Linked DNA regions of Homo sapiens: region 2 is linked to region 1. The links come from fine-mapping of genetic effects on gene expression. A gene starts in region 1. The other region holds a variant in brackets. All regions are shown on one strand. Distances are from middle to middle. Region 1 holds the start of TEAD4 (TEA domain transcription factor 4). Region 2 overlaps TEAD4 (TEA domain transcription factor 4).

Region 1 (5,368 bases):
GCACACCAGGCCGAAGAGGTGAGAGGGTGAGGTGTTTCCCACAAGAACATCCACATCCTCAGGATGGATGGAGGAGCAAGGACGAGAACCCCCAACCCCCGAGACAGTTTCTGGCTCCTTCCTTCCAAGAAGCCCTACACATGATATCCACGTTGAAGCCCTCATGCAACAAGCTACTCATTCCTCTTCTCAAAGGAAGTGCTGAGTGTCTGGCAAGTTGGAAAGAATGAGGGATTCTTCTACTGGGTTACCTGGTCAGCTCCGAGGAGAGTTAAACCAGGAAAAGTAGTTCAGGCTGGTATACCTCCCTGTTTGTCCTTGAGGGCAACTTAAAAGCACTATTTACACAAGTCTCCAGATTCAAAACTGTCTCCTTTTCCCGGGGATCCACCCCGACAAACCTTCCCAAATCTCACCCGCCCATCCCATCCCCCAAAGGCAAAGATCTCAACTTCCTTCAGCCTCCTACCAGCTTTTTGACCTATTCCAGGCAAGCACAAGACCCTCGCCCTGAGAAAGTCAGCCTCCTGGCTCCAAGAGGCAGGTGGAGCCAGCTTCCTTCCAGCTCTGCCCGGTCCAGGGGAAACGGAGCCTGGAGGCCACACACTCCAAAACCACAGTCAAATTATCCCTGCACTCAGGCAACCAGAGACACTGACTCTTGCCCACGGCTATGTAGGGAGGAAGAACAGTCCTAGCCAGAACCAACATCCTCGAAGAGAAACACATACTCAAGAGACGTGGCATCACACACCTACTCAGAGATACTCACTTTCAGACAGCCCCTTCTCACGCAGACATATACACACACTCTGTCACTCACGTTCAACACAAACAAATACGCCCACTGGAAGCCAAGGTGAGCCACACGTGAACAGACATCACCCACACAGAGACTCAAAGCGAGGGGGACTCGCAGTCAGGTGTCACACAGACTCAGCACAGACGCAGTCAGTCCGCGGGGCCTCAAGTGCCTCAGCACAACGGGGGAAATGTTCACTTTGGGGTTTGAAAGTTCTGCTCCCTGGATCGATCCACTAGTCCCCATCAGGAAACACAGCAGCTTCCCAAGCCCTGAGGTGTAGGACCTTTTGCAGGGGTCCCCCGACTTTCGCATCGCCTTTGCACTTAAAACAGGCAGTCCGCTTACCTCCAGGTCTCTCCCTTCCAGGCTCGAAAAGGGCCCAGCAGAAAAGAGGCATGGGTGCTGGGTCTCTTCTGTTGCCGATGCTCTCGGTTCTGCCTCTCCGGTCCTTTCCACACCGGCCTCCCTTTCCCCCAAAGTCCCGAGTGTCCACCCCCCTTACCCGCCCCTGGAGCCGCTTCGCCTCCAGCAGCCTCAGTCGCGCCGCCTCCACGTGCCTCGCTCTTCCCAGTCTCGTCCCGGGAGGGAGCTCCGCACGCACCGCGCAGACTCCTGCCCTCCGGCAAAGTCCTACCAAGTCCCCGCGCCCCAGCCTTACCGGTCCCAGGGTGCGGGAAGGTGGGATGGGTGCGCTAAGCCAGTTCCAAGGAGTCCGCCCCGAGCGCCAACTCTTCCGGCCGCGGCGATCGTTCTGCGGGGACGACAGGGCGTCAGCGCGCAGAGCCGGGCTCCGGCCGGGGCCGACGGGCGGCGCAGTGAAGGCGGGGCCGCGGGGCCAAGCCCACCCCGCGCCGACCGGCCCCGGTGCGCCCAGCGGAGCGGAGCGGAGCGCGCGGAGGGAGGAGTTTTCCCAGAATGGGACTGACGGGAAAACACGGGGATCCCTATTCCTGGAGGAGTGAGTCAACCGGGAGCGAGGAGGGGAGCGCGGGGCGGACAGGAGGGAAGCGGGAGAGGGGCAGCGAGCAGCGCCGGAGCGCGGAGGGAAGCCAGAGGTCGGGACGGAGCGCGTCGGAGCGCAGAGGTCCAAGGCGGGAACGCGGGCGGCGGAAAGAAAAGAGCAGCCGAGCACGCGGCGCGAGCGGTCGGCTGCGGCGGCGTGGGGCGCGCGGCCCGTGAGGGCGCCGGCGGGTGCGGCGGGCGCGGGCGCCTCTCACCTGGCGGGACGCGGCGGCGCCGGAGCTGCGGCCCTCCCGCCCCCTGGCCTCGAGTGTGCGAGGAGGACGCTGGAATGCGCGGAATGAGGGCTGGAATGAGATGCGCGCCGCGGCGGGAGGGAGGGAGCCGGAGGGAGTGGCGGCGGGGCCACCGGCACCTCGGGGAGGAGACTGCGCCGCGCGCGGGCGGGCGAGGGGCCGGGCCGCCGGGGCGGGGCGGGGCCGGGCCGGGCCGGGGCGGGCGGCGGGGGAGGGGGCCGAGGGACGGCGGGGACCCCTCCACCCGGGCCTCGGCTGCGGCCCCCACGCCCACTAGCCCTTCGATCTCTCCGCTCCGACTGTTTGGCTGCTCGTTGCGCGCCCCGCGCCCTCCCCTCCTGGCGGGGTCCCGACTCCCTTTCCCAGGAGCCGAGAGCCTTCCTCTTCGCCGGGGTGGGGCTGTCCCGGGGGCGGGGGGGTGGACGGGGCCCAGACTCCCGCCCCGCCACCCGGCGTCCCTCCGCACGAGTCCCTGGGAGGCCGGGGAAGGGGCGGGCTCCCGGCGCGCAGGAAGGGCTGCTCCCTTCCTGCGGCTCCCACCAAAGGACACTTGCTCCGGGGAACCAGGAAGCAGGAACTCGCGGGCTCCATTCCCAGATCCGCTGCCAGTGCCCCCTCGCTTGCCCTCCCCGGCTTTAGCTCTTTCCGTTTTTCTCTCCTGCCCCTTGGGCATCTGTAAAACCGCCACTACGAGTAAACCACATGGGAGAAAGGGCACTCGGTTTGAAGTCCATGTGGCATGCCATGGGACGCCTTCTGGGCTCAGTGACTCAATGAATATTCATCTAAGATGTGTGATGAGTCCAGATACTGTGAAGATCAGGATCAGCCGTCAGCACCTGCCCTCAAAGAGCTCAGAGTTTAGCTGGGGAGGCCTCGGTGTATACTGCCATCGGTGAGAGTCTGGACTTCAGACACACATGCCCAGGAGTCTCTTATTGGGGCAGGAGGTGCTGGAAACACGCTGGGCTCCTTGTTTGGAGACGCTTAGGACAAACGGGCTTAAAGCAGTGTGCTGGCAGGTAGCGCCATCATCTACCTGGCCAGGAGACTGAAACCAAAGGACTTTTGGCTTTTTCCAAAAATCAAATCCAACCTTTTCTGGGGCATTATCACTTAGCCTTGTGTTGGGTGGTTGTCTAGATCTTATCTCCCTTGCCAAACAGAAACTTCCTTGAAGACAGAGTAATGTCTGATTTATCTTATCTTTCACACAGATCCAGCCTGGTGCCTGGGATAGGGAAGTGCATGATAAATGCTGCATAAATGAAAAACAATTGCTACCGTGGAAGATATTGAAAGGAAAGTGCTATCGATGCCAAAGTTGTTTCCAAGAGAGGTATTCCAAAAGTGTTTCAAGCAATGACTGAGCTAAGCATCCAGTCCTGCAAGGTGAAGGCGTTGAAGACGCAGCCCTCATTTGAATAGATGAATTGTGGTATTCTTGTTAAATAATGAATCATATCAAGGCTTGGTCACACCTCATGCACATGAAAAGACCAAAACGCAAGGCAGCATATCAGCGCCACGTGAAGTACACACTAAGCACCAACTATTTAATTCAGCAATCATGGGGGGCCCGGTGGCTCACGCCTGTCATCTTAGCAATTTGGGAGGCCGAGGCAGGTGGATCGCTTGAGCCCAGGAGTTCGAGATCAGCCTGGGCATCATGGTGGCCTGCACCTGTAGTCCCAGCTACTCAGGAGGCTGAGGTGGGAGGATAGTTTGACCCCAGAAAGTTGAGGCTGCAGTGAGCCGTGAATGCACCACTACACACCAGCCTGGATGACAGAGCGAAACCCTGTCTCAAAGTAATTAATAATAATTATATTAATTCAGCAATCATTGGAGTGTTTGTTGACTTTGACACCGCACTAAGGGAAGGAGTAGGTCCCTTTCCTCAAGTAGTTCCAGTCTAGGTGAGAAGACAGACAATTATGCAAAGTTCAATGGGAACCCAAGGGAAGGAACAGTGAAATCCAATTACAGTGCATTTGATCTAGCTCTTGAGGATAAATGAGGGTTTGCCAAACTGAGACTGGAAACCCCATTTAAGACACATGGAATAGCACCTACAAAGGTGAGGCAGCCAGTCTGCTGGTGTGTTTAGCGAAGCTATGTAAACTGGTGTGGCTGGAGAATAGAGATGTGGATAATAAGATTGAAGGAAGTGGATACCAGACTTTGAAGGTCATTGCGTGCCATGCTGAAGAGTTAGGCATCAAAAAAGACACAAGTGTGACTTAATCAGCAGCACCATCAAGAAGACCGTCTTGCAACAGTCTTGCAGTTGAACTGGAGACTCGGGGTGCCCTAAAACTCAAGCAGTGGTCCTGAGGTTGAGGAGGAGGGGAAGGAGCTAGGAAACGGTTCAGATCATTTGGCTGTGTAGTGAGAGAGAAAACAAAAATCGCTAACCTTTAACAGCTGAACAATGGTTGGTGTCAGTAAGTGAGATAAGAATTCAGGGCTGGGCACAGTGGCTCATACCTGTAATCCCAGCACTTTGGGAGGCTGAGGTGGGTGGATCACGAGGTCAGGAGTTCCAGACCAGCCTGACCAACATGGAGAAACCCCATCTCTACTAAAAATACAATATTAGCTGGGCGTGGTGGTGCATGCCTGTAATCCCAGCTACTCGGGAGGCTGAGGCAGGAGAATCACTTGAACCCAGGAGGTGGAGGTTGCAGTGAGCTGAGATCACGACATTGCACTGCAGCCTGGGCAAAAAGAATGAAACTCCGTCTCAAAAAAAAAAAAAAGAAAGAAAGAAATTCAAGCAAAAGGGGAGTGGGGTGAGGTCGGAGGGGAATCCAGCCAGGTTCAGGGGACGGAGAGGAAAGCAGGACAGAGTCCAGAGTAGAAACAGGAAAGCAACCCTAGTGTCACGGTTAGGGTAGACTGCTGACAACGAACTTGGAGATCTTTATTCCCTCTAAGTCTTAACTATCCAAGACCATCAGTGATCCAAGCTGGGAAGGTGTGTCTTCAGGATCTTGACTTTCTGGCCCATACCCTTATAGTCTCCTGGAGAGCTCTGGAGCTTTGGGGACCTCAGGCTTGGAGCTGTTGAGGAATGTCTAGGTAAAGGAAAGTTAACAGATGTACAAATTCTGAAGAGTTAAAGGCAAGGTGATTTTACCCACACATCAGCCCTTCCCAGGGATGTTTACATTTCTTAAGGGACAGGACCCTAATTCACTGACCCTCAGGAATGAGTCTTTTGGTGGAAATATTTCAGCTGTCTGGATCCTACAAATGGATCCTCACTCAAGCTTGATGATGGACTGTGCAGGAGGAGGAGAGT
Region 2 (5,368 bases), 21 kb before region 1:
GCCCTGCCCTGCGGCTCATGGAATGGGGTAAGCCAGCACCAGCCTCCTCCTCCTTCCCCAAGTGCACCACAGTGACCCAGGAGGGCCTGCCAGGGGAGAGCTGGAGGCGGGGGACAGATGGCATCGTGGAGCTGGGCCATGCGCTGTGAACAGAAGAGTAAAAATAATCCCAGACTTGGTTCTCAGGGCCCAGCCCAGGAGCCTCTACTCTGCCTCAGCCCCAACCAAAAGCTACAGGGTAGCCCCCAGGGCAACCCCAGAAGACAGCAGGTTGCTCCATCCTAGGGCCCACAGGTGCTAATTACTCAGGAATTTCCAGAAGGATCAGGAATGTATGGGCTTTTATTAAGATCTCCCTAATACTCAGAACAGTAAGCTCCTCCAAAAACACTTTCAGGACAGGAAGGGAATCAGGATGCTAAGTTCCAAATGGAGAGTCCAAGCCTCAGGGAGGGCAAAGGACCTGCCCCGAGAAAAGGCAGAACCAGACCCCAGGCCAACCTGACGTCCTCTCCCTAGTCCGATCCATCTCACGCTCCCAGAGCCCTCCTTTCAGAGCCTTCTGCAGCCACTGTGATCCCTAAGCCCCTCACAACTCCTCCAGCCTCTAGAGCTGAGACAGAGAATTCAGAAGAAAACACCCTGATTTTGGGGGTCACTGGGCTTCATCTCTCAAAATAAGAAATGGAGAAGTCTCTTCATTTTAAGAGAAATCATCTCTTAAAATGAGACAGGTGAAAGAGGAGCAGCAGACCCCAGCCTTCTTCCAGGTGCATCCCCACTACCCTCCAGCACCCCTGGGCTTCTCACCATCTCCTGAGCCCCAAGTCTGTTCATACTGCTTCCCTGCTTAGGGTGGGCCTCAGTACTAATTTAATTCCTGCCAACAGTCCATCAACTAACTCTTTACTTGAAGTACCTGTTCTTGGACTAAACTCTAGAGAAAAGGGTCCAGACCTTCATGGGGCTCAGACTTCAGATGGGGATGGGAGACTAGACAGACATGCAAACAGGTAAGTGCTATGGAGTGTCAGAGGCTTGGGTGGAGGTAGGTACAGGGCACAAGCGGGTGCAGTGAGAGGCCCCCTCTACCCTGAAGGGTTCCCTGAGCCCCAGTTCCCAGAGGCCCCTGAGCTGCTACACTGATTGCCTGAATGTGCTGTGCTACTCTGGCCAGTCAGTTGTCTGCTGTCTTCCACGCTAACTAAGCTTGGAAACTCAGGAGCTGGAAGACAAAGGGAGGAGGCCAGGGGACCTGGGCGGGAAAGAAGAACCTATCCTGCAGGTAGTGCCGGGTGGGCTGTGCTGCCTCCTCACACAGTGCAAGCCCCTGTGCACTGGGCAGGCGACCCTGCAGGACGGATACAGGCAGCCCAGCACTTGTGGGAGGGCTGAGTGTCAAAGAGGTGCCCTGGACACTGAGGGACACACGTTTTACTACTTTAACACTAGGAGGTGCCAGTTTCAAATGCCCACTCTGCATCAGGCACTGGGCAAAGCACTTGACTACATCTTCCTCCAATCCTGCCCCCATCCCCTTGAGGTAGCTGCACTGCCCCATTTGGCAGGTGAAGATGCTGAGGCTCCTAAGGTGAAGTGCTGTGTCCCAGCCCAAAGCCAGTAAGAGACAAGGCTCAGACTGCGGCTCTGAAGCCCTTCCCCACTGCAAGCTGCCTCCTGCCCATCATGATGCTGCTTTTTTCTTGAGATGGAGTTTCGCTCTTGACCTCAGACATCTGCCCGCCTCGCCCTCCCAAACTGCTGGGATTACAGGCGTGAGTCACTGCGCCTGGCCATGATGCTTCTTTGACCTATTTTGCCAACTTTTTTTTTTTTTAATTGAGACAGAGTCTTGCTCTGTCACCCAGGCTGGAGTACAGTGGAGCGATATGGACTCACTGCAATCTCAGCCTCCTAGGTTCAAGAGATTCTCCTGCCTCAGCCTCCTGAGTAGCTGGAATTACAGGCGTGCACCACCATGCCCAGCTAATTTTTGTTTTTTTAGTAGAGGTGGGGTTTCACCATGTTGGCCAGACTGGTCTCGAGCTCCTGTCCTCAAGTGATCCGCCCGTCTCGGCCTCCCAAAGTGCTGGGATTACAGGCGTAAGCCACCACATCCAGCCTATTTTGCAAACACTTCTGTTGACAATAGGAAGGGGGATGATCTGACTCTGCAGCACGAGGGATGCAAGTTAGATGTGCAGAGTTGGAGGGAGGGGTAGCCTGGATTGGCAGGCTAAGGGAGCTAGAGAAGTTCATCTCTGCAGACACGAAGACCTCTTGGTCTCTTTCGTTGCATGGACCCCACTGTTCCTACGGCCTCCAGTGAAGGTCCCAGCGGAGAGAGGCAGGGTTCCCAGGGTTTGTGTGGAAAGAATCTCGGGGAAGAAAACTGCCCTCCAATGTATAAGTGAGGAGACTAAGGCCCTGAGAGGTGAA[C/G]TGACTTGCCAAAGACCACAAAACCTGTTAAAACTGGGACTAGAACTACATCTCAGGCCTGCACTTTTCTGCCACACAATTCCAACCTCCATGACCATCACTGGATGCCTCTCAGTGAGCACAGGAGAGGGCTTCTTCCCAGGGAGGAGAGGAACAGGCTCCCCTGCCAGAAAGATCTCTCCCTGCTGATTCTCATGCCTAACAACTCAGCACAGGTACTTCAGTCCTTGTGCCCTTCATTCACTCACTGTTCACTGGGCATGTACTATATGACAGGCATTGGGCGCTGCTCTGGTATGAACGTGCCCCTCAAAGTTCGTGGGTTAAAAACTTAATCCCCAACACAAGAATGTTGGGAGATGGAGCCTTTAAGATGTGATTGGGCCTTGCTGAATGGATTAATGCTGTCATCTCAGGAGGGAAGGAGGGAGAGTCATCTATGAAGATGCAAGTACAGTCAATCCTCATTAATCACAGAATAGTCACAGATTTTGTACTTGCAAGTTTGCCAACTTGCTAAAATTTCTAACCCCCAAATCACTACTCCCAGTATCTTCACAGTCATTTGTGGACACATGCGTGCACTGAGCAGCCACAAATTCTCACTGCCTGACGCGCACGCTCCCAGCTGAGGTCGGCAACGCCGCACTTCGTCTACCTGGGTCAGCTCTCCTGCAGGTGTCTTGTTCTGGGTCTATTTAGTGCTGTGACTTCTGCACTTTTGCAGGTGCTTTTGCTGCCTCAAGTGGTCCCAAGCATAGTGCGGAAGTGCTGTCTGCTGTTCCTGAGCACAGAATGTCAAAAGGCACCAGGATAGTCAAAAGGGGAAGCAGCCCAAATGTCCATCAATAGAGGAATGGATAAACAAAATGTGGTGCATCCAGGTAATGGAGGATGATTCGACCTTAAAAAGGAATGAGACCGGGCGCGGTGGCTCACGCCTGTAATCCCAGCACTTTGGGAGGCCGAGGCAGGCAGATCACCTGAGGTCGGGAGCTCGAGACCAGCCTGGCCAACAATGTGAAACCCTGTCTCTACTAAAAATACAAAAATTAGCCGGGCATGGTGGCAGGTGCCTGTAATCCCAGCTACTCGGGAGGTTGAGGCACAAGAATCGCTTGAACCAGGGAGGCGGAGGTTGCAGTGAGCTGAGATCACACTACTGCACTCCAGCCTGGGCAACAGAGTGAGACTCCATCTCCAAAACAAACAAACAAAAAAGGCATGAAATTCTGACATAGGCTACAACATGGATGAACCTTAAGGACATTGCACTAAGTGAAACAAGCCAGTCATGAAAGGACAAATCTCATGTTATTTCACTTCCATGAAGTACTGAGAATATGCAAATCCATAGAGACAGCCGAAGAGAGACTATCAGGGGTTGGGGATGGGGGAATGGGGAGTTTCATTCATAACATTAACAGTCATTGTCAGGCGCAGTGGTTCACACCCGTAATCCCAGCACTCTGGGAGGCCGAGGCAGGTGGATCACCTGAGGTCAGGAGTTCGAGACCAGCCTGGCCAACATGGTGAAACCTGTCTCTACTAAAAAATACAAAAATTAGCCAGGGGCGGTGGCGCAGGCCTATAGTCCCAGCTACTTAGGAGGCTGAGGCACAAAAATCACTTGAACCCCGGAGGCAGCGAGCCAAGATCGCACCACTGCACTCCAGCCTGGGCAATAAAGTGAGTAAAGTGAGACTCCCTCTCAAAACAAAACAAAACAAAAAAAAACAAAAAGACAAAAAAAAAAAACAGGCACTTACTGTTTAACGGGTACAGCGTTTCAGTTTCGGAAGATGAAAAAGTTCTGGAGATGGAAGCAGGAGACTGCAGCACAATTGTGAATGTCCTTAATGCCACCAAACTGCACACTTGGAGTTCAAATGGCAAATTTTATGTTACATATATTTCACCAAAAAAATTGTTTAAAGCGCACCAGGAGATAGAAGACAAAAAGAAGAGGGCAGAGAAGGAAAAGAGGGTCTGCAGGGGACCTGGGCCCGAAATACAGGAGCAAAGGAAAGGGCCTGGTTACAGCTGGAAAAGAAAAGAGAAGGACAGGAGAGTCCCCAGGTCACAGGCAGGTGAGTCCCGAGGGATGGAAGGAAAGGGATTGGTGGAGAAGGAAAGAACCCAGCAGAGAAATGGATTTGGTTGGGCTGGGCCGGGCCAGGCTGTGTACTCAGTTAGAAACAAACAGATCCCATTGTGATTTCGGAAGGGCCAGGGCCTGCCGGAGGCCAAAAAAGGGCCCTTCTCAGAAAACAAGACCAAGAAAACCTAGGTGTCCCAGGGCCTGAGCTCCCACCACTGGAGTGCCTTCCTCTTGCTGAGCAGTGCCCCTTCCTCTCCTGAAATGCAACAAGTTCTCGGGAAAGGCCACGTGAAGTCCGGGACATGTTAAAGACGCCTCAGAGTCCTATGACCTGAGTGAAACCTGCCTCTCACCAGCTACGTTGCACAGCTGTTCAGCAACTTACTGAACCTCCCCAAAGCTTCTGTTTCATCACCTGTCAAATGGGGATGAGCATTCCTGCCTGCAGAGCCACTGAGGATTGAGAAAAGCAAGTAAAGCCCCTGCAAGGCAATGCACGGCAGCACCTTCCCGGCCATCCTTTGGTGTGAGGCCTTCATCACACCTGGCTTCAGGACAGGATGGGGAACGGGGAGCAGGTGAGAGGGGGGGAGGCCCCACAATCCTTCCCAGGCTAAGGAGATGTTGGAACAAAAGTCAGAGAGCTGGACCCCTTGAGCAATGCCTGGTCAAAAGAGAGAGGAAAAAGAAGGGAAGGGGGAAAGGGAGAGAGAGCAGGAAGGGGAGAAAGAGAAAGAGAGAGAGAGACGCCTGGGGCAGAGATTTAGCGTTTGGGCTCTGGACTCAAGACGCCTGAGCTCAGATCCTGGCCCAGCCTCACAGGGACCT

The links. PIP is the estimated chance that this variant, and not a neighbour inherited with it, causes the effect. A credible set is the group of variants that fine-mapping cannot tell apart.
Region 2: its variant is the best candidate, but not a certain one, in a credible set for the expression of TEAD4 in cerebellar hemisphere (GTEx, PIP 0.84).

What each region holds. Positions count from the first base shown.
Region 1 is chr12:2,956,136-2,961,503 of GRCh38, reverse strand. It overlaps TEAD4 (TEA domain transcription factor 4), which reads right to left and starts at 2,107. Exons shown (of 13, transcript NM_003213.4): 1 at 2,023-2,107; 2 at 1,464-1,556. It overlaps LOC124902859 (a long non-coding RNA gene), which reads left to right and starts at 1,456. Exons shown (of 2, transcript XR_007063159.1): 1 at 1,456-1,763; 2 at 3,279-3,906. RefSeq lists an enhancer at 1,202-1,937.
Region 2 is chr12:2,977,206-2,982,573 of GRCh38, reverse strand. All of the region lies in intron 2 of TEAD4 (TEA domain transcription factor 4), which reads right to left. Among named protein-coding and RNA genes, the nearest start is that of TEAD4, 20 kb to the right of the region's middle. RefSeq lists an enhancer at 925-1,544. The variant C/G (reference allele first, on the strand shown) is at 2,440.